Linked DNA regions of Homo sapiens. The protein of the gene in region 1 interacts with the protein of each later gene in a pairwise test. Each region holds a gene or a part of one and is shown in the gene's direction. Other genes may lie near its edges.

Region 1 (8,356 bases):
TGGACTGCTAAATCTTATTCTAAATTTATTTGAATATACATTCGTAAGCACTTTAAAGTTTGATAACATATGGAACATTTTGCGTACCTCAGTAGAGAATTGGAACAAGGTCATGGTTTCAGAGCAATTCTCAAAGAGGTGACTCAGGTCTAGAAAGCCAGATGTCAGTGTCATTCAGGAGAGATCTTCTTAACAGGAAACTCAGTAGCTATAAAGGAAAAGATAGATGTGCTAGTTACTTATTAATTAACGAACTACTACAACTTAATGTTGTAAAACAACTTTTAATATTATCACTTCCTTCGTTTTTCATAAATAACATCTTTAACTGAGAATATGTTTATTAACCTAATATCATTTCAAAATAAAATGTTATACTTAATCTCAAAAACAAATTCCTAGAAAGCCGTTTTCAAAAAATGTATAAAATAGACCTATTTATCATGACACCTTCAGGTGTGTAATTTGATTTGCCATGAATGTATACATTAATTTTTAAATAATTTTACATTTAACATTTGGGATGTGGAATGGATTTATTTTGTATCTAAGTACATGAATTAAGTAATAAACAGTAATTATTGGCAGGAGCGTCTAGAGTTTAAAATTGTGTTTCTTTACAATATTTCATTTTTTAAAATATATTTTTCCATATTAATCTGTGAAAAAATATATTAATGAAAAACTGACGCAAAGGAAATATTTTAAAATAATATTTTTTATTTCAGTTATACAAATACTTGGCTAGATATAGTTTTTATTTTGACATGTTAGAAGGATAGTTTTGAGGTAAAAGTAATTCTTTATTAAATATTTTTTTCTTCCATTTTTGTTTTGTTTTGTATTTTTGAGTTGGGGTCTTGCTCTGTTGCGCAGGCTGGAATGCAGTGGTATGATCATGGCTCACTACAACCTCTTACCTTCTCAGCTCAAGAAGTCCTTCCTCCTCAGCCTCCTGAGTAGCTGGTACTACAGGCATGTACCACGATGCCCAGCTAATTTTTTTTTTTTTAATGTTTTTGTAGAGATGGGGGTGTCAACTATGTTGGCCAGGCAGGTCTTGAACTTCTGGCCTCAGCTGATCCTGTCACCACCACCTCCCAAAGTATTGGGATTACAGGCATGAGCGACTGTGCCTGGCCCCTTTTCTTCCCTTTTTAAAACCTAATTTGAATTTCATAATATCTAGACTTACATTAATATAACACATATGCCTAATTCTATCACTTCTTTTTTTTTTGAGACGGAGTTTTGCTCTTGTTGCCCAGGCTGGAGTGCAGTGGCGTGATCTCAGCTCACCTCACCCTCCACCTCCCGGGATTCTGCTACCTCAGCCTGCCGAGTAGCTGGGACTACAGGCATGTGTCACCATGCCCGGCTAATCTTGTATTTTTAGTAGAGGCGGGGTTTCTCCATGTTGGTCAGGCTGGTCTCGAACTCCCTACGTCAGGTGGTCCGTCTGCCTCAGCCTCCCAAAGTGCTGGGATTACAGGTGTGAGCCGCCGCACCCGGCCTCTATCAGCTTTTTTATGTTTGCAGGCTTTTTGTTTTTGCTTTATTCCACTAGGTTTCCCAGATTTAGAAGAAATCTTTCATTGTCCACTTCCTCTATTTCCTTTAGATATTCTTATTTCTATTTTTTTTTTACATTTTTCTCAGTAACTAAAACTGTCTGCACATAGAAAAGAACCTGTCTAAGTTGTCATTGAACAAACCAAATGATGTTTGTGATCATTTACTTCATATAAATGTGACATTGCGTTAAACAATTAGATTGTTGGCTTTCACATTAGCTCCAATTTTGAGTTTAAATGGAAGACATCAGGAAAATAAATACCAAGGAAAACAGAACTATCTGACTTTATCAGTTATTGCCTCTTTTCCCAGATTTTTTCTTAATTTATAGCTCTTCTTTTTTTACTTTTAAGATAACTATCTCTGGGTTTCAGATGTTGCTGTTGCTAAAAAGGCGCTCTCAAGCATACACTGCGTCAGATGATATTTTTTATTATAATGTAGATTATCAAAACTTAAGCATATACTTAAAATGTTTCATAATTATAGCTGACTTTGTTTCTACAAAGGTGAAATACTAATGTTATATGTTTCTTTTTAATTTTCAAGTTATATAGATTCCTTGCTGTTCCTCATCTGTGCTTATCAGAATAACAAAGAACTCTTGTCTAAAGGCTTATACAGAGGACATGATGAAGAATTGATATCACATTATAGAAGAGAATGTTTGCTAGTAAGTTGAATGCATATAGTATGATCTTATCATTTTGTCTGACATTGGGCAAGTTTTCCAGACTCATATATAAGTGATTGACTCCATAAACTCTGAGGGGATAAGAACATGATGATGTCTATAAACTGGTTCTAGTCCCTTCAGATGGAAAAGTACACTCAGTACTTTATTCTTTTCTCTTTATGAATCCCAAGTACTATAGGTGATAAATGAGAAATGTTCTTAAAATAGCATCAGTTTGTTTACATTTCTGTATTTAGATTTCGTCATCACACTACCACTCCTTTTTTTGGTGGGAGAGGAAGGGATGCATAGATAAGCCTTAAAAAATGTTTTATGTAAGTCTATAAGAATATGCAGGCTGGCGCAGCAGCTCATGCCTGTAATCCTAGCACTTTGGAAGGCTGAGGCTGGTGGATCACAAAGTCAGGAGATCGAGACCATCCTGGCCAACGTGGTGAAACCCCATCTCGACTAAAATACACAAACACAAAAATTAGCTGGATATGGTGGTGTGCGCCTGTAGTCTCAACTACTCAGGAGGCTGAGGCAGGGGAATCGCATGAACCTGGGAAGTGGAGGTTGCCTTGAGCCAAGATCGCGCCACTGCATTCCATCCTGGCAACCAGGTGACAGAGCAAGACTCTGTCTCAAAAAAACAAGAATATACATAGAATGTATTAGAGTAATTTGTTTAACTTAAAAAATTGAATTTTCAGGTACAAGAATAGTATAGCTGACTTTAAACATACATAGAACCAAAACCTGATGGTTCCTCTGAAACCTTCAAAAAATGGTATAATGTTTCTCATCATTTTTTGTAGTAACCCAGCCACATTTGGTTATTTGTTTTACATAGGAATTGAAATGAAACCTCGTCAAGATTACTTTAGTGTTCCTTTCAGATTTTTTCACGTTGTATATTTACAAAGTGTCAGGTTCTGAGGGATACAAACATGAGTAAGATGTACTTCCTGTCCTCAGAAAACTCAGTCTGGTAGGAGACATAATTGTTTGTTCTGGAATAAGTGCCATTATGAGAAATATGCACAATGATATGCCTGAAATATTTGGGAAGAACCTTAAGAGACAAGGTAAACCTCGTCTGGATCTTGATGGATAAATAGAAGTTTTATTCATGATAGAGAAGGGAGAATATTCCAGTACACAACAGAAAATCAAGATAAATTCACTGTGGCTATCCAGGTTATGAGGAAGTGGGGTAAGGTGGAAGTGATGAAGCTGACAATACTTGTCGATGTCAGATGATGAAGAAACTTAGATGACATTCAAATGAGTTTGCACCAGTGTAAGTTTGATTAGGTTTGGCATAATGAGGTTTGTTTTCAGAAAATAATTCTGGTAATAATAATAGCATTCTAGAGGATGAACAGGAAAGAAGTAGATTGAAGTCAAGAACCTTAGAGGGGAAAGTCAAGGGACGGAGAGTGAGGACCTCAACTCATGTAGTACGGTAGGTATGATGGTGAAGGAAATGAAATCGGCATGTCATAGCTGTTGGGTGAGTGGGAAGAAGGAAATGGAAGAGTCAAAGCTGCCAAACTTACTAGTTTTTCGTTTAATATTAGGGAGTCTAATAGGAGGAACAAGGTTGGCTTTGAACATGTTTTATTTAAGAGATTTCCAGGACATTCTTTGATTCAGTGAACTTAACATTAAACTTGTCATTAAATTTTATATATCATTTAATGCATACTTCCAAAAATTGTAGTAAATACTTGAAGATTTATCTCATTTTATTCTCTTAACCCCTATGGTTGGAAGATAAAATACCCTATTATTAATATAAAGAAAGTGAAGCTAACAGATTTAGCTAATCTGTTCACGATTGGTGTATTAGTCCGTTCTCACACTGCTATAAAGATACTACACAAGACTGGGTAATTTATAAAGGAAAGAGGTTTAACTGACTCACAGTTCCACATGGTTGGGGAGGCCTCAGGAAACTTAAAATGATGGCGGAAGGTGAAGGGGAAGCAAGGACCTTCATCACATGGTGGCAGGAGAGAGAAGTGCAAGCAGAGGAAATGCCAGATGCTTATGAAACCATCAGATCTCATGAGACTCACTCCCTGTCACAAGAACAGCACTGGGGAAACTGTCCCTATGATCTGATCACCTCCCACCAGGTCTCTTCCTCAACACCTGGGGGTTACAATTCAAGATAAGATTTGGGTGGAGACACAAAGCCTAACCATATCAATTGGGTAATTGATTCATGGCCAAGTTGGACTTAATAGCACAACCATCTTTCCAAAATCAAAATAAATTGCATAAGAATTATGTGGTGTAAATCTAAATATATAACTTTTTTTATTTGAAATTCAGCTTAAAAGTCATGTTTATCATGCTGTAAACATAAGATTTTAAATAAGAACCCTTAAATATTATAGGTCTTATACCTGTATTTATCTCTTATGTTTCTTATTGCATGGATTTCTCTGTTCTACTAGATCAGTGATCAGCACACTATGGCTTGTGCTCCACCTACCACTTGTTTTTATAGATAAGTTTTATTGAAACATAGCCATGCACATTCATTTATATATTGGGTATTATTGTCTTTGTACTACAATGGCAGAGTTGAATAGTTGCAACAGAAACTTCATGGCCTTCAAAGCCTATAATAGTCCTCGTCTGGCCCTTCACAGAAAAAGTTTGCCAATCCTTGTACCAAATTGTAAGCTCCATGAGAGTTTTCTGTATTAATCACTTGAGTGCCCCTGCATCTGCAGAAATTTCTGGCACGTGGTGTTGACTCTGTAGGAAGTTTTTGAAGGGAAAAGTGAATTGATTACCTTTATATTTCTGTATCAAGGAATACAATAGTATATATTCAGTTGCCATTAATGGAGATGAGTTTTTCAAAAATTAATATGGATTCTGAATTTCTTTATTTTTAAAACTATTTTGAGTGCTTATACAATTTTATAATTTGGGGAAGTTAATCTCTAGAGAAGAAAAAATGGCCCCTGTGTTGATGATCGGCATAAGCCAAACATGACTGAAAAACACAATAATGTTTTCTCCACCGCTGTTGCTTTTGTTTCTGTTGTTGCCATATGCATAGCTTTTTCTAAAGAGAGATTTTCAGTTCTAGATAGGTTGAGATTGTTTTCTCTAAATACCGTTTGTTCTAATACTGTTTGTGAACATATTTATGTTGTCTTCCTTATTAATACTTACAGATCCTTAATTTAAAAAGGAAACAAAAACCTATTCTTTTTTTTTTCCTGCATTGCATTAAGAAATTAAATGAGCAAGCCGCAGAACTCTTCGAATCTGGAGAGGATCGAGAAGTAAACAATGGTTTGATTATCATGAATGAGTTTATTGTCCCATTTTTGCCATTATTACTGGTGGATGAAATGGAAGAAAAGGATATACTAGCTGTAGAAGATATGAGAAATCGATGGTGTTCCTACCTTGGTCAAGAAATGGAACGTAAGTTTAAACAATGGTAGTAGGCACCTGAGATGTCCGGATTAAATGCAGTTAGAATTAGATGTTATTTATTCTTGCCATTTTTTATATTAAATACAATATTAAGTATTAATATTTTCACATTCACATGATTACTCTTTTTCCATATTGATGAACTAAGCTGTGTGCATTGCAGTTGCCATTTATGTTTTTGTCTCCCCAAAATGGCAATTATCTTACCTATTAGAGTAAGTTAATATTAGTAAATCATGTTGACAATGATCGTGTAATAATTTCTATCTTTAGTTAGATTTAATTGTTTGTATTTGCAGCACACCTCCAAGAAAAGCTGACAGATTTTTTGCCAAAACTGCTTGATTGTTCTATGGAGATTAAAAGTTTCCATGAGCCACCGAAGTTACCTTCATATTCCACGCATGAACTCTGTGAGCGATTTGCCCGAATCATGTTGTCCCTCAGTCGAACTCCTGCTGATGGAAGATAAACTGCACACTTTCCCTGAACACACTGTATAAACTCTTTTTAGTTCTTAACCCTTGCCTTCCTGTCACAGGGTTTGCTTGTTGCTGCTATAGTTTTTAACTTTTTTTTATTTTAATAACTGCAAAAGACAAAATGACTATACAGACTTTAGTCAGACTGCAGACAATAAAGCTGAAAATCGCATGGCGCTCAGACATTTTAACCGGAACTGATGTATAATCACAAATCTAATTGATTTTATTATGGCAAAACTATGCTTTTGCCACCTTCCTGTTGCAGTATTACTTTGCTTTTATCTTTTCTTTCTCAACAGCTTTCCATTCAGTCTGGATCCTTCCATGACTACAGCCATTTAAGTGTTCAGCACTGTGTACGATACATAATATTTGGTAGCTTGTAAATGAAATAAAGAATAAAGTTTTATTTATGGCTACCTATGTGTTTGTAAGCAGGTATATTGTATATTAGTGTATTAGTAATACTAGATAAATGAATTTTGTCTGGGGATTAAGATTGGATAGTTAATAGATTAATACAATCTTTTAATTCTGCTCTAATGCTAGCAAATTGGAAAATGTTTAAGTCTTTGACACTTAAATTTATCTATATTTTTAACAAAGTTCTTGAACTTAGTATGGCACCGGAACCTGTTTTGAATTCAGTCAGGTTTTTACTCAAGTAAGTGGTTGATTTTTTTTAAGTCAAACTACACTGAAACTTTTATCCTTTTCTTAGATTAATCTTACTTTTTAAATGTATTTACAATATACAGCAAGGTGATTATTTCAAGAGAATCCCAAAGTACTTGAATAAGGGCTATTGTAAAATTTAAAAGAAATATTTATATATACACATATATACACATACACACATGTATATATATATTCTTCATAATGGAGGACAATGTTTTGCAATATATAAATCATTCTATTTTTGTAAATTGTATATCACTTTAATTGAAAATGTTCTCTACTAATTAATACTGTGAAACAAAATTGATGTTGTTTAACTAGAAGTTATGAGTATCTTAACTGCCTTTATTCCTTTTCAAAAAGGAAAAAGCTGTAGAACATTTTGTAGATGAAACTACTGTTTAAGATTAATGAATTAATATTGTGAATGAAAATCAAAATCCATACTTTAAAGGTAATCATGTTACTAACAACCTATTTTTGAATTCATAAAAATTTCTTTATAAATGATGTTTTGTGAACATAGTAAAATAGACCATTATACTATGTGTATGTTTGATACAGCGTCGCCAAAACTAGTGTTCTTTATTAGTGCCTCTCACAAAAGATCCTGGATGGAGGAGTAAGATGAAATATTATGCTATTATATGATGCTGTTTGTAAAGGTATTAATGTACTAGTAAGGTGTTAATGACAAGGAATTAGTACTATTCCTGTTGTAAAGTTAGATTTTGCATATTGTATCTATCAAAATATGTTTGGGTTTAGATTTTAAGTTGTCTACTGAGCAGATTTCTGCATTGGTTTTCCAGTCCTGTTAAAAGTTTAGAAACTTCATATGTGTCATCACAGCTTTTGTAAAGAAAGTATCCTTAATATTTTATGACATTCTACCACAGTGGTAAAGTTGTTTGTGTTTGTGTATAATTGACTGCTGAGATACAAAGTGCCCAAACACTATATGGAAATTATTCCTTCAAAGTCACATCCAGAGAATCATGTCACTCTTGTGCTGAAGGTAAGTATTATAATTGTATTTACTATGTACTTAAAAACCAGATTATTTATTCCTAGTAATGAATTTGAAATAACTTATTTAAAGAAAAGTGACCTTTTTCAAGACCTACAGAAACAACTTATTTTAATATTGGTTTTTAATCTAATTGTAAGGTTTAGATCATTGAAATTTCTTTTTTTTTTTTTTTTTAAATTTCCAACTTTTAAGTTCAGGGGTCCATGTGCAGGACATGCAGGTTTCTTACAGAGGTACATGTGTGTCATGGTGGTTTGCTGCACAAATCATCCCATCACCCAGGTATTAACCCCAGCATCCACTAGCTATTCTAACTGATCCTCTTCCTCCTCCCAGCCCCCACCCTCTGCCAGACACCAGTGTGTGTTGTTCCTTCCACCATTGAGTCCAATATGTTCTTATCGTTTAGCTCCCGCTTATGAGAACATGCAGTAG
Region 2 (7,678 bases), on another chromosome or scaffold:
TGTGGAGGTGGGAGAAGAGCCTGAGGGGCGTAGCCGAGGCATCCTGGACCTGGGCCTGGGCCAGCTACTCCGTTCCTCACTCTCCCTGCTTCTCTTCCACCCCCAGGTGGGAGACTTGCGTGTCTCCTTTTCCTATGCTGGACTGAGCGGCGATGACCCTGACCTGGGCCCAGCTCACGTGGTAACCTGGCTTCCCAGGGGCAGACACTAAGTCAGAGCCTCACGACTTTCCTGGACACAGACACCTTGGTCAATGTCAGGAGCGCTTGGACCCCCTTTTCCCTGGGGAAAGGCACACTCTCGCACACACTCTCAGCCAGGCACGCTTCTGAGCAGTTTCAGAGCTCCCATGTCCCCACAGCCATCCATGGACCCCACGTTAAGAAGGGCAGCTCAAAAGGGGTCTCATAGTCGCACCTTATGACAGGTGTTCCAGTCACACACAGACCCTCTCCCCAAGCCCGTTTTGATCTGTCAATAATTGGTCTTGCGTTCCTGGCCTATGTGCAGTCCTGCCCCATCCCCTGCTCTGCGCACTGCCCAAGAGCTTTGAATGCCTGGAGCTTTGAATGGAGCAGCTCAGCCAGAGCTGCAGAGGTGGATGCATCCCAGATGGATGTATAGAGAGAGAAGCCCCAGGGTTTCTGTGCTCACTTCCCCAGCCGGCACCCAGTCCCGGGAGGGTGGGCCATGGCTCTCGTGGGCGTGTCTCCCGCTGGTCACCCCTCAGCTCTAACACCAGGTCCTCTGACCAGGTCACTGTGATTGCCCGGCAGCGGGGTGACCAGCTAGTCCCATTCTCCACCAAGTCTGGGGATACCTTACTGCTCCTGCACCACGGGGACTTCTCAGCAGAGGTGAGTGCTGTGCCCTACTCGTACGGTGGAGGAACAAGCATGTCCTTCCTTCCTTCCAGTGGTTATTTAATAAGATCACACTACCAGGGGTCATAGCCAGTGAATGAGGCAAGAAGAAGAAATAGCGGAATGTTGAGTATGCCTCATCAAAGTGTTTGACCAGGAGTGTTTCAGATTCCAGATTTTTTTGGATTTGCAGGTATTTGTATATACATAATGAGATCTCTTGGGGATGAGAACCAAGTCTAAACACAGAATCTATTTATGTTTCATGTATACTTTGTACACATCGCCTGAAGGTGATTTTATACAATGCAACCCGTCACATGGGGTCAAGTGTGGGATTTCCACTAGTGGCGTCATGTTGGCATTCAGAAAGTTTTGGATTTTGGAGCACTTCAGCATTTGGGTTTTTGGATTGTGGATGCTGAGTCTGTCATGAACCCTCAGTGTGCAGGACTGTGCTAGGCACTAAACTCACTGTGCCTCACAGACTGTCCGGTAGAGGAGTGAGAGTGACAGAAACTCGTAAGTACTGATGCATCGTGCCGAGTGTTGGAAAGAGGAGAACAGGTGCTCTGATACCAGTGGACGTCAGAGTAGAACATCCGTTTCTGCAGTGATCAAGCAGGGCCTCTGACAAGTGAGTTTTGCTGACGAGAAGGGGTTAACCCTAGAAGAATCAGTGATCAGTCAGTTCCAGCAAGAACAGCCCAGTCTGGGCACGAAAGGGTTCACCTTCTAAGGGGGCACCCGGAGTGCTGTGGCCACAGCCCAGAGCGGGGAGAGGGAGTGGGTGGGGGGGCTCCACCAAAGTCTGTGTCCTTCCAGAACATTAGGAGGGCGGGGAAGGGTTTTGGGCCTCAGCTACCTGAGTATCCCTCTCCCATTGTAAATAGGGAGGGCTATGCCTACCCCGGGTCCCAAGGAGAAGGGGTGCCAAGATGTGCTGATTAGTTCAGTTCTGTGCCTTAAAAGTTAGCCTGTCTTCTCTAGGCAGGCAATCCTTCTCTGCAGCAGAAGAATTGAGTCTTTAGTTTTTCTGTTGTTGATGAACACAGGTATCCCTGGTGGGGCACTCTATACCTGCCCTAACCAGGACTGCTGGGGTTTTCATTCCAGAGTGGCCAGAAAGGGTCAAGGCAGCAGACAGGCATCAGGGGTTAGCTGTGACCTTTTGTTCCTATTATTAGATCCTCAGCAGCCATCTGTCCCATTAGCCTCCAGCTTGTGGTGGTGCTTGGGCCTCACCAACTCCTGGTACCTGGCCAGGGCTAGGGTGTGGTCAGGCTGTTGCCCAGGAGCCCAGTTACCAACCTCAGGGTAGGGCTGCCACCTCCCAGCCTAGAAGGCCATGAGTCACCCTTCCACCAGCAGCTGAGGGTCCCCAGCGAGTTTCTAAAATTAGGAGGCCCAGTCCAGGCCTTGCTCTCTCTCCCAGGGCTGAGGCCCAGCTCACGCAGCCGCCCCTCCAGAGAGGAGTGGATGGGGCCCATGGCTTAGGTAATGCCCCAGAAAGGAAGGCCCTGCAGTGCAGATGCTCAGGCGGCCTCCTTACCCCCTGGGTCTCCTGCTGCTTAGCAGCCCCAAAGCCCTGTCTTCCCCCAGCCCAGCCCCCACCCCCACACAAGGTCTGGGGTCTCTGCCAAGTAGAAAAAAGGCCCAGAGCCAGGCAGGCAGCTCAGGGCAAAAGTCAGGATGCCCCGATTCCAGTCCCAGGGGCAGGAGAGTACAGCTGCCCAAGCAGGCACACTGCAGACGGCCCTGGCACTGCCTCCCACCTGCTACAGGACCTTGAGCTGGTGCTGATCTCTCAGCCTGTTTCCTCATTTGTGAAGGGGAAGATGTTTAAGTACTATTAGTAATAGTCACATCATCCCTAACTGGTTTGGTCATTGAGGATTATTCATTCATTCAGCAAGTTTTCATTGAACACCAGGTACTTCACAGACATGCTCCCTGCTCTTGGAAATGTAGCGTTTAGTTAACTGCTTGAGGTGAGACCTTGGGCACATGACTTATTCTCTCAGAGCCTCAGTTTCATCATCTGTAAAGTGGAGGTAAGTATTCCTACCTCACTGAGTGAATTTGAGAATTAAATAATACTTGTAAAACACTTAGGACAGTATCAAATAAATGGTGAGTGATAAATGTGACCTGTTTTTGTTGTTACGGACTCTGAGAGAGGGCCCGATTCAGATCAGAGGGTCAGGGAAAGCCCTCTGAAGAAATGGGGTTCAAGCAAAGCTCAAAAGAATATGTAGGAAGCTGGCCAGGCATGACTGCAGGCAATCGTTGTAGGCAGAGCAAACCCACGCGCAGATACACAGGCGAGAGGACACTTGACCTGGACTGGGGACAGCAGCCAGCAGGGTCAGGGCACTGGCAGCAGGGTCGGTGTCCGGGGGGTGTGGCAGGGCTCTGGCAGGTGACTGTGTGGAGAACACAGAGTGGGTGATAGAAGCAGGGCCAGTGAGGCTCCTGCGGGCAGACAGTGGTAAGAGACTCGGGAATATGTGGCCTGGACTGGATGGGGTGGTAGGGGAGGAGCGAGCCATGTCTTTCCCATAGATGTGAGTGGGTGGGTGGGTGTGCCATGTGCTGAGATGGAGAAGGCGCCAGTGTCAGCACTAGACAGGCTGAGATGTCAAGTGGAAATGTCAAGGAGGTGGTGGAGGTGGTGGGAGCTGCAGGGCTGTGAGGCCCGGGAGAGGGCCAGAGCTGCAGCTTTAAATTGGAGGGTCACGGCATGTGGAGGCCAAGGAAGCAGATGGGATGTCCGGGGAGAGAGTATGGACTGAAGCAGCTAAAGAATTGCAGCATCTAATGGACAGGAAGAGGGGCAGCGACAGCGATGGAGCCTGAGAAGGAGGGTGCAGTGTCCCCAAGCCATGTGGAGAGGTTCTGAGATTAAACAGATCACACACATAGCGCAGAGCATGCTGCCCAGCAGACATCCTCCAACCTGCTCAGGGGTGGTGGGCAGGGTCCTGCTCATTCCAGGTGAGACCGTGGGCTGAGGGCTCCAGGTGCTGGCAGGCTCTGAGCTGAGGAAGGCCCGTACGTTCCACAGAGATCTCATGCCTTGCCCTGTGCTCTGCCAGATGGGCAGAAGGACTTAGCCCTATAGGAGGCTTGCCCCCACTCCGTCTGGCCTGTTCAGAAATGGCCAACAGCTCCCGAGTTGGTACAGCCCCCTCAGGACCTGCCCTGCCGACTGGGTACGCCACTGGCCCTCAGCATCCTGACCTGCCCCCACCTTGTCCTGCAGGAGGTGTTTCATAGAGAACTAAGGAGCAACTCCATGAAGACCTGGGGCCTGCGGGCAGCTGGCTGGATGGCCATGTTCATGGGCCTCAACCTTATGACACGGATCCTCTACACCTTGGGTAGGTGTTGGGGTGGGTCACTGCCCTCCCTCCTGCACCCTGAAAGGGCCTCCTCTGCCTGTCGCATCATCTCAGCCCTTCCAGCCTGATGGGATGGCCCTTGTGCAGATACCAGGCATTTGGCTCATCTCTGTGTCCCCGCTCCATAGCCTTGGGATGAGGGAGCAGAGGAAGGCAGGCTTGAGGGCAGGAGCTGCCAGGGGCCAGGCTGGGTGGGGCCAACTCTGGGGCACTGGTCTCACTCCACAGCCTGAAGGTTCGTCCATCTGCTGGCTCGATCATTTGCTCATTCCTTTGATCCACAATTGAATACCACATGGGAGCCTGCCAGACCTGCATTTGAAATCTGTCACGTCCAAGCTCTGGATGCTTGGCCGTTCCCTTCCCATCTCAGCTTCAGTCACCTCACCCCTTACATGCAGAGTTTTATGAAATGTGGCAAATAGGAAACACCCAAAACTCTCATGCTTCCTTCCTCACTCCAAAACCTGGGCTAGATTTGGGCAGCCAGCAAGTCTGGAGCATGAAGGAGAGTTCTGGGCCACTCCTTGACCTGAGGTTGGCACCAGTGAGCCCAGTAGGAGACCTGTGGCCCAGCGTGGTTCGGGATCTGAGTGCCCAGGGTGACTAAGTGCGTTCTGGGCCCAGGAGGATGGGGTTCCTCGGAGGACTCTCCATCCAAGCCTTTCCCTGGTGTGTGTCCCTTCCAGTCACATGATTGCATCAGTCTTCTCTGGGTGCCAACAGAAACCTCTTCCCCACTCAGCATGCACAAGTCAGAAGAGGTCTGGCTGCACATCTTGGGCTGTCTGAGCTGGGGGGACCACCTCCTTTGTTTACAGTTGGGAAAACAGGCCCGGGAAGGGAAGGACTCTCCCTGAGCCTTTCTTTGGACAGCTGAATTGTGCTCAGAAAGACCAGTGACGTGGTGGGCACATTAGCGAGAGATGAGCATTTAAACGGAATCCTCTTTCTTGCCTGTGTGACCCTGGGGAGACCAGTTCCCTTCTGGAGCCTTGGTTTCCTCGTGTCTGTCTCAGTGGGCCCTTCTTTGGATCTCTGATGTCTGTGATCCCAATTCACTCTACGTCTGGAATGCGCCAGACTCAGGACAGACTTAGAGTGTGGAGGGACCCCCAGGGTGGGTGGGGAGAGTTGGGAGCGCAGCAGGGAAGCACACAGTTCCCCATGCGTTTGATAAATACCAACGTGTGTAAGACTCCACAGCTAGAGACAGACAAGACTTAGAGCAACAGCTCAGAGCCCAGGCTCTGGGCCCATACGGTCTTGAGTTCAAATCCTGGTTCTGGCACTTTCTAACAGGAGGACTGGTGGTGAGTTTCTTAATTCCCTGAGTCTCAGTGACCCTGTGGGTAAAATGGAGTTAAGAAGAGTACCTACCTTACAGGGTGGGCATGAGTGCTTCATGAGATGGTGCACATGGTGCCTAACACAGGCAACGTTCAGAAACATGAACTTTGCTTATTATAAGGGCTGAGTAGCAGTGCTGTATGGGAACAGATCAGGATGAGGCCAGGTAGTGGCTTGCAGGGTGTGCTGCAGGCATGGTGGGGCACCAGGGCTTGCTCTGCAAACCCAGTGATTCCAGACCATTGGTGGCCTCCTGGGAACTGAGCGAAGATTCCCTGAGTGGACATCAGCTATGGAATGCCAACCTGGAGAGGTCACACAAGGCAAGAATAGGGTAATTCCTCATGAATTTAGCTGGATTCTGGGCTTTATCCTATTGGACCAATAGTCTGTGAGATTCTTGAGGAGAGGCCAATGCTTAGGCTAATTTATTTCCTCTAGCACCTGCTGGTTCAGTGCTGGGCACATAAATCATTAGTAACAGCCTGCTGCATGAATGAACCAACACCTCTAGGAATGGCTGAGAGGCCCAAATAGGCACCTTCAGGAGGCTCCACCCACAGCCTCTTGTATGAGTGTGCAGGACCCAGGTTATTTCTAGCATTACAGGCAAATGTCTTTATACTGGCCTCAGACTACTCTCCACATAAAGTATTAAAGTTTACAAAGCACTGCTACATCCTCTCCCCTGGATCAGGGTAGAGTGGGTGGCTTAGGCAATGTGCCCAACCACGCAGCTCATAGCAGAGGCTCCTGTGCTCCCTTAGCTTTCAGAACGAAGCTCCTTGCCTTCCACCCACTGATCCTCTCCCCTCCTCATGCATGTAGCAACATGGGCCCATCCTCATCTAGGGACAGGAGAGATCTGCTGAGCTGGTGAGGTGTAGAGCAGGTGGCACCTCATCACCTTTCTCCTTTCCACAGTGGACTGGTTTCCTGTTTTCCGAGACCTGGTCAACATTGGCCTGAAAGCCTTTGCCTTCTGTGTGGCCACCTCGCTGACCCTGCTGACCGTGGCGGCTGGCTGGCTCTTCTACCGACCCCTGTGGGCCCTCCTCATTGCCGGCCTGGCCCTTGTGCCCATCCTTGTTGCTCGGACACGGGTGCCAGCCAAAAAGTTGGAGTGAAAAGACCCTGGCACCCGCCCGACACCTGCGTGAGCCCTAGGATCCAGGTCCTCTCTCACCTCTGACCCAGCTCCATGCCAGAGCAGGAGCCCCGGTCAATTTTGGACTCTGCACTCCCTCTCCTCTTCAGGGGCCAGACTTGGCAGCATGTGCACCAGGTTGGTGTTCACCAGCTCATGTCTTCCCCACATCTCTTCTTGCCAGTAAGCAGCTTTGGTGGGCAGCAGCAGCTCATGAATGGCAAGCTGACAGCTTCTCCTGCTGTTTCCTTCCTCTCTTGGACTGAGTGGGTACGGCCAGCCACTCAGCCCATTGGCAGCTGACAACGCAGACACGCTCTACGGAGGCCTGCTGATAAAGGGCTCAGCCTTGCCGTGTGCTGCTTCTCATCACTGCACACAAGTGCCATGCTTTGCCACCACCACCAAGCACATCTGTGATCCTGAAGGGCGGCCGTTAGTCATTACTGCTGAGTCCTGGGTCACCAGCAGACACACTGGGCATGGACCCCTCAAAGCAGGCACACCCAAAACACAAGTCTGTGGCTAGAACCTGATGTGGTGTTTAAAAGAGAAGAAACACTGAAGATGTCCTGAGGAGAAAAGCTGGACATATACTGGGCTTCACACTTATCTTATGGCTTGGCAGAATCTTTGTAGTGTGTGGGATCTCTGAAGGCCCTATTTAAGTTTTTCTTCGTTACTTTGCTGCTTCATGTGTACTTTCCTACCCCAAGAGGAAGTTTTCTGAAATAAGATTTAAAAACAAAACAAAAAAAACACTTAATATTTCAGACTGTTACAGGAAACACCCTTTAGTCTGTCAGTTGAATTCAGAGCACTGAAAGGTGTTAAATTGGGGTATGTGGTTTGATTGATAAAAAGTTACCTCTCAGTATTTTGTGTCACTGAGAAGCTTTACAATGGATGCTTTT
Region 3 (7,678 bases), on another chromosome or scaffold:
TTGGGGAAAACTGTAAAGTGCACAATAACTCTTCAGGTCTGAAAAATATGACTTTTCAGGTTCCTGGAAGTAGATAGATTCTTATTGAGGACAAAGAATTTGTAAAAGTGTCATAGTGATCAGGTTCTTCACATCACTTTAATAACCTGCTTATTTTGTCAGGGTAAGAGACTAGACATCATTAGGCCCCAAATCTGATCTTCAGTCTACTCGTGCTTTTTTTCCGCCTCATAAAAACACATTTCCACCTTTAGGCCACTCAACATCTTATTTTTAATGAGTTATGATTTATACAAAATACTAATCACATTTTGAACTCATTGCCTTCTTTTCAATGTAGCATTCCCTAATGATGACTGTTGTCTATGTAGTCAACATAACTACTACATGTTTTCTACTCAGTTATGAACATGACTTTTTAATTTTTTCAGTAAGGTTAGTTTTTAACTCTGGATCAATAAGGCACCTCTGATATCATTGCAAAAACTGGGCATTTTTTCTTCTACCTTTTCAACCATATTTATTGAGTATCTCTTGCCAGGCAGGATGCTCAGACCTGGGATACCATCTCAGATGAATAAGACAGACCTGGTCTTTGCCATTGAATTTAACAGCTGGGAGCATGTTATAAGTAAAGAAAAGGATACGTGTTTTAACTGTTTATATTTGAAAGCATTATGGAATACTGGTGTTTTATTTTCTACACCTCATTTTCAAAAGCCTCATTTTTTTTTGTTGTTGTATGCACTAGGAGGATGTGCATGTTGAATGTTTCCTTCTAGGTCCCATTGAATGTATTTTTGAATCAATTTGTTGTCTCTTTCCTATCCCTGCCTTGTCACGGAGCCCCAGTTGGGCAGCCTTTAATTGCATTCTCCATTCCATAGCCAGCATGATGGACCCAATGCGTTCATTTAGTGCTCTCTTTGAGGATAGGCTGGTGGTAGAAGAGTGTAGGGTATAAACTTTGGAATCAGGCCGTCCTGGGTTCCAGACCCACTTGCCATGTACTGGCTGTGTAGCCTGTTGTAGTTGCTTTACCTACTAGTCATCCCTGGTCTCATTTGTAAAATGAGGATTATGGAGTTATGGTGAGGATTAAATAAAATATTGTTTTAAAGTATTTAACATGGTGCCTGCAACATAGTAAATGCTCAATAAATATCAGCTTCTGTTATTACTATTAACTCCTTAATTGGGCTTACCAGGGGCCTCTGACCTGGTTCCCATTTGACTCTGCTGCTTCACATCCCACCACAGCCCACATTTTCCCAGTCTATTTGTGTCACTACACATACACACAATGTGAGCAATTTAGGCAGCTGTTCCTTTGTTCAGGATGTCTGGAACTCCTGCTACCTGGCTAATTTTCACTCATCTTTTAAGACGTAGTTCAAGTGTCATCTTCTTGAGGAAACCTGCTTTGAATGTCCCAGTTTGAGGTAAATGTCTCCTATGAGATACAGACCTCTCACTTAGCTGGTAACAATACCAAGCCAAAGTCATATCTTTACGTAACTCTCTTGCCCATTATACCTTTAATCCTCTCAATCTTATTCAGTTTTCTATCTCTGGGATCTCTGGCAGTGCCTGACACATCATTTAGCACCCAGGAAGTGCTGAGCTGAGCCTCCACTTCATCCTACTGTATCTAATGCAACTGAGGTCGAGCATTTAACTAAGCAGTCACTGTTTGTTAGGTGTTTGGTCCAAATAGTAAAATCTTTACTTTCAGTTAGAATAGTTTTAGTTCTGATCACAATAAGTAATTTGACTGTTTTTGAAGTATGGAATTGGTTCTTGTATTCTCATGAAATATGGAAAAAGATGTTTCAACTTCTGACAAACATGATGGAAAGCTGCTAGAAGTTTTCATGCAATTCCTTTAGCCATAAATTTTGAATCAGTGTAGGGCCTTGAAAGCCACTGCAAAATTTTAAATAAAGTCACCAGAGGAATTATCCAGTAGATACTGATTCCTCTTTTTTTTTTTTTTCATAGAAGGGTGTCGGAAAGAGAATTTTATTACGAATGAAGTGCTAAAATCTAAATTTATTTTTTAAGTTTCTTTTTTCATTGGGTTTTATGTTTTGGTTTATAAGGGTGAAGCAGCGTTGGTTGAAGGGAAGTGTGGTCTTGTAGCCACCACTGCCTACTCTAGAGTAGCGTGGATATTATTTAGGTCTGATGCAAACCACCAAAGCAGTTTTAAATAGGGTGCAGGGGAAACATACTTCCTGGCTACAGCATGGCATTATTTGGCCAAGTTCCACATAAAAGCATAACTCTGTTACCTTGTTAGCTTCTACCCTCCAGGTCCTTATGTACAACTTCAGCAGATTTAAGTTATGATTTTCAGTAGAACAGATATGCATTCGCAGCAAGAATGCTCACCGCTTCTTTTGCACTCTCTACTTTCCTGGTAATATTTTGCTCCACAGGTACTTGTTGCTTGTGACTGAGGCAAGATAATGACTCATACTTCTTTGCTTGGCATGCCAAAGGGTTTGGAATGCTGGACAGGCAAATTGTCTCATCTCAGGGAGAAGGAAGAGAAAGACAATTAACATTTGAGAACCTACCCTGAGACAGCCACTTGATATTATGTATCTCATTTAATCCTAGGAAGAAATCTCCAAGATAAGTTTTATTATCTTTATTTTATGGATGGAAAGATGGATCCTGCTCAGGGTCTCTCTGGAGTTTTGCCTGGGTGCATGTATGAGTGTGTGGCCCAAGCTTCTTGTGCTTGCATGCTGCTAGGTTCTTTCGTGTGGTCTCTATGTGTGTATGCGTGTGTTGGGAGGGAGGCTGAAGAGGGGTGAATGGATATCAGATTTGAGAGAGGGGAAGCTTACCATCTAATGTCATCAGTTCAGTGCTCCTGATTTAATTGATTTGGTTTGCTTGCATTATCTGCCTCCTTCCTGACTACATTTGTACCACAGAAAATCAAGATAAGGCAGAGTTTCTTTGCATAAGGAAACTCTACAGCCCACAGTTTGACAATGGTGTCTTAGTGGTAGGACTCATGGTGGGTGACCTGTGGTTTGGCCACTTATAGCAGTTGGACATACCCCATTTGCAAAGATGTGTATTGTAAACCCCAAATTTTGAGTGTGTAGGACAATCATTTGTGTACAATCGTGTACAACTGCTGATGAGGGCAAGAAGAGCCGACTTTATCCAACATAACAAAGAAGAAGGGGACAGTTTGACTTTTGAAGGGGACAATTTGAAAACTTATAGGAGGTTAAGATTCTCTTCCTCACCCATTACATCAGGAGTACTTCTGCCTTTTACTTGCCACAGTCAGCTTTCTAGGTCTTAGCACCCAACAAGTAGCAACTATCCTCTTGGGTGTAGTCAGTTTAGTCTACTTATGGCCTCCTGCTTAGACTCTTAAGGGTTCCCTAGCATCTGTGTTTTGTTTGTAGGTTTGAAGCTATCATTATTAGATGAGATTTAGCTTCAGGGCCCGTACCTATGACTGGGGAGATTCTATCTGGGAAAGGTCAAGACATGCAGCTCTTTTTTTTTTTTTTTTTTCTTCTCTTTTCTGAGGGAATATTTTCCTCCAATTTTTTTCAGCTCTACAACTAAAATATAGACCTAGTATATGAACACAACTGGCCTCTGTCCTGGGCCTTAGATGGTACTCTGCTGTCATTCTTCTCTGGTCAGAGCCATGCCTATGGGGTGAGGTGACTTTTGGGCCTTCCAGTCTTACTCTCTTTTCATTTTTAGACCATGATTTGGTTATGTGGGAACCCACATTCGCTGTCCAGAAGGCCCTGAACTGGTATCTGCAGTTTGCATGGATCCTTGAAGCCATCTTCCTGAAGGCTGTCATTGCTACTGGTTGTGCAATCTCTGCACGAGGGTTGTTTAAGGGATAGCTCTGTGTGTGTGTGTGTCTGTATGTGAGAGAGAGAGAGAGAGAGAGAGAGAAAGAGAGAGAGAGACAGAGAGCGAGCTTGGGTGTCCACATATCACAAGGCCCCTCTTGATGTAGGATGGAGCAGGCAGGGGGGAGGAAGGCAAATTGATTACCAGGGCTCAGGATGATGTCTCTCTTTAAACCACCCATTTCTGTGGAAGGACTATGAACATTGTAGGAGTTCTAAAGTTGTACCTGGTCTTCCAAGACATTGAAAAGATATATTTGTCAGTCTAGGTAGAAGGATAACACCTATTTTATTGAGCAGTTTGCTAGCTTGATTTGTAACTTTAAATGTTTTGACTTATGGTACATGGGCCTCTATTTGCTCACTTGCCTTGGGCCTTCCCATGTTGGGGGTGGATCTGCAGCAGCAACATTCCTTTGCAGAGATGTTGGGTAGAAATAAGTTTTGGTTAATTGTACCATTTTTTCCCTGGAATAGACAACATTGAACATTAAAGAAAAAATGAGTTACTTTGTAGACATAGTGCTCTATTTCCTTTGGGAAATGTAGTTTTTCTTAGTTTGCGTTGTCCTGAAGTGAACTTTAGCTCTATACTTTTTTTCTTTCCTTTTTTTTTTTTTTTTTTTAGATTTCCTAGTGCCCTAGTTGCATTTCTTCTGTGTATTGAGAGACCACCAGGCGGGCAAGGTGAAGTTTATCTGAATGTTTTTTCCTCCTATTGTAAATATTTTATTTGAACCAAAAAAAGGCTTGGTTCTTCTCAAGCCTCTTTAAAGAAAACAAGGAAAAAGGCTTCTCAGTGCTTTAGAAGATATAAGATTGTCAAAACTTCATTTTAGAGAACTAGGGATTTGGTTGAACCAACATGAATGCCTTTGAAAGAAGATATGGGTTGGGTGCATATTTTCAGTATATGCTGCAGCAGCTCTTTATTAAAGTATAAATCATTACGAAGTCTTCATTTCCTATGGGGCGATAACACTGCTGCTTTGTGGATGACTACCTGTCACGCCCAAATCCTGCAAACTTTTCTACATAGGGAAATGAAATTGGGCTTATTTCCCCTGTAGCTTTTCTCAAGAGACTTCATGGACTAATTTCCCAATAATCATAGTAGCTACCACTTATTGAGGTCTTGCTACTGCACGGATCATGCTGAGTACTTCAGGTGTATTAACCCTCAAAACAACTTTAGAAGGTAGGTTATATTATGCTTATTATAAATCCTCCAGAGTCAATAAATTTGCCTAAGTCCACCTAGTTAGAAAATGATTAGGCTGGGGTTGGAACCAAGATGGTCTGGTTTGGGGATCTAGATTCCTAATTGTTATACTGTACTGAGACTAGTCTGCCTTAATTGACATAAACTACTTGTCCATTATAGCATGGGTGTTGGAAGACTAGAGGTTAAGAGAAATAATAATATCCAACATTTTTCTAGTGTTTTAGCATTCTTCATATATTATCCCATTGCATTTTCTTAGTGTAATAAAATAACACTCGGTTTATACACCAGGTAGTCAAACATCATGCCTGTCTTGTGATCTCAATGGAAAAATGAAGTGTATACCTCAAGTGATACAGTCTTGGCTGAATCATGGAACAATTATGCCATCAGGAAGTTTAGGTATTCTGAGTAAAACAGGCACTTTATTTGAAAGGACTGGGAGACTTCACAGATGCATCAAATATGTTGAGGATATAAATGCCAGGCTCAGGTGGATTTACTGTGAAGTGCTTGAACTTAACCTTCAAGGCTACCTATACCCTGGTATAGGTCCATCTCCTGGCTCTAGGAGAGGCCCTGGCAATGTGGTTAACAAGTGTCATCAAGTCAAATACTACGAAATCTTGCAGTGCCCTGAATCTTACAGCTCACATATAAAAGAAACCTGATAAAAGTTTTCCAAATTTGAAGTCAATCCAAAAAATTTATATGACATTACCTGTAATGAATTATGAAGCTGAAAGGAACTTTTCCAAATTATTCAAGAATAAATTACAAATTCTGATCTACATTTCTAAAGGGAAGACTGAATTATTTTTCTATTCTCTCAATAGAGAATATTGCAAAATGTTATTGGAAGAGATGATCAAAGAGTGTGCAACCAAAAAATATAGGAGAATTATTTCAGAGGTATGGCAATCAGTTAATAAAAATATTTGTTTTTTAAACACTTCATATTTGTAGTATTTATAGCTTTTAAAAATTTGTTGTTTGTATGATACTATTTAAAATTTTTTTTCCAGAGATGAGATCTCATTCTGTCACTCAGTCTGGAAAGCAGTTGCATAATCATAACTCACTGCAGCCTTGGAGTCCTAGGTTCAAGCAGTCCTCTAGAGTAGCTCGGACTAAAGGCATGCACCACCAAGACCGGCCAGTTTTTTGTTTTTTGTTGTTTTTTAATTTTTGTAGAGATGGTGTCTTACTATGTACCAAGTCTGGTCTTGAACACTGGGGCTCAGAGGAACCTGTCCACCTCTGCCTCCCAAAGTGTTAGGATTACAGGTGTAAGCCACTGCACCCGGCCTGTATGCCATTTTAATTCTAAATAAATATTCACTTTATTCTTAATTTTATATTCACTTTATTCTTAATTTTGTATTCTTCTTCTTAAAGAGTGCCCCTGAAATTTACAAGCTTCAGATTCCAAAGACCTGAGTCTTTGACTAATGGTAGGATTTGTTTGTTGGTTTAGAAAATAAATGTTAAAAAATGCCTCTTCCTCCTTCCCCCCATTGCAAACAGAGACTGAAATCTGCATTGTTATTTCACAAAACCAAAATATTTTTCCTCCAGGTTTAGCTAAACCCTTCATCATTTTCCTACTTTAGAGCCCCATGCCAAGTAGAAAAGAAGTTGCAAAGATGTAATTATCACAAACCTTCATCTTGGATGAAAGATAACCTAGCTCTGACCCTTAGTTTGAGATTAGAAGGACTCTACCTAGGAGACAGCTGGTAAAGACTAAGGTATGTTGTACCAGGAATCTAGGTGTCTGGGTGACCAGGCTGTCTTTCTTCCCACTGGGGCTCATTTTCCTTCTATACAGTGACAAGAATTGGACTAAATAAGATTTCCAGTATTTTCTCTTCTGAAACATTTCATTCTTTGTTATCCCTGTACTATTTTGTTAGTAGAATAAATCATTGAAGTTGAGTTAGAAAATCTTTAGCTAATCAAAATAGAAAACTAACAAAAGTCATGACAGGTCAGAACTGAGAAATACCACAGACTTCCACTGGTGTTCATTGGAGATGACTACTATTAAAAAAAGAGAAGAAAAAAAACCATAGCTATTTTGAAAATTTCCGACTACAGGTGTCTGAGCATACATCCTGACTAAATAGCATGTTTACTTCAGCTAGAGCTCACTCCTTCCTAAATAAAAGGCTTACTTGGTTTTGGTGGTAATATTATTCCTCTTTGGTTAATTATGGTATTTTCATTCTCCCCTTCCTCTGAATTGGTTAAAATGTCTGTGAAAATTTTTCCTAAGGTAGAAAGTTATGAAATGCTTTGCTATGCCTAGGAGATGTAAAGCCTAAAGGAACTTTCATATTTTTTGGGAAAAAAAAAAAAGGAAACTTGTCTAGATATAATTAGTGTTCTGTTGCCTTTCAAATATTTCTCTACCACTTTTCTTAAAATATTCTCAGAAAAGACAGAATTTGCAACAGATTGGCAGTTTTCAGACTGCTGTTTTAGGCAGGGGAGTAGCTGCCGCAACCTCTAATTGCATTTCTGTAGAGTTTGCAGACACTTG

What was found. Proteins that work in one complex are often made in the same cells at the same time.
Region 2: the proteins of USP25 (region 1) and TMEM43 interact in binary tests that used the Homo sapiens proteins (3 or more experiments, as listed by UniProt).
Region 3: the proteins of USP25 (region 1) and TGFBR2 interact in binary tests that used the Homo sapiens proteins (3 or more experiments, as listed by UniProt).

Annotation. Positions count from the first base shown.
Region 1 is NC_000021.9:15,872,279-15,880,634, forward strand, and holds the end of USP25 (ubiquitin carboxyl-terminal hydrolase 25), read left to right. Parts: intron 1-2,124; coding exon 2,125-2,248; intron 2,249-5,517; coding exon 5,518-5,713; intron 5,714-6,024; coding exon 6,025-6,197; 3' UTR 6,198-7,786; downstream 7,787-8,356. UniProt on the Homo sapiens protein: Deubiquitinating enzyme that hydrolyzes ubiquitin moieties conjugated to substrates and thus, functions in various biological processes including inflammation and immune response.
Region 2 is NC_000003.12:14,135,052-14,142,729, forward strand, and holds part of TMEM43 (transmembrane protein 43), read left to right. Parts: intron 1-106; coding exon 107-181; intron 182-755; coding exon 756-857; intron 858-4,128; coding exon 4,129-4,246; intron 4,247-6,541; coding exon 6,542-6,744; 3' UTR 6,745-7,678. UniProt on the Homo sapiens protein: May have an important role in maintaining nuclear envelope structure by organizing protein complexes at the inner nuclear membrane. Required for retaining emerin at the inner nuclear membrane.
Region 3 is NC_000003.12:30,609,601-30,617,278, forward strand, and holds part of TGFBR2 (TGF-beta receptor type-2 isoform B precursor), read left to right. Parts: exon of another isoform or gene 1-5,060; coding exon of another isoform or gene 5,061-5,106; intron 5,107-7,678. UniProt on the Homo sapiens protein: Transmembrane serine/threonine kinase forming with the TGF-beta type I serine/threonine kinase receptor, TGFBR1, the non-promiscuous receptor for the TGF-beta cytokines TGFB1, TGFB2 and TGFB3.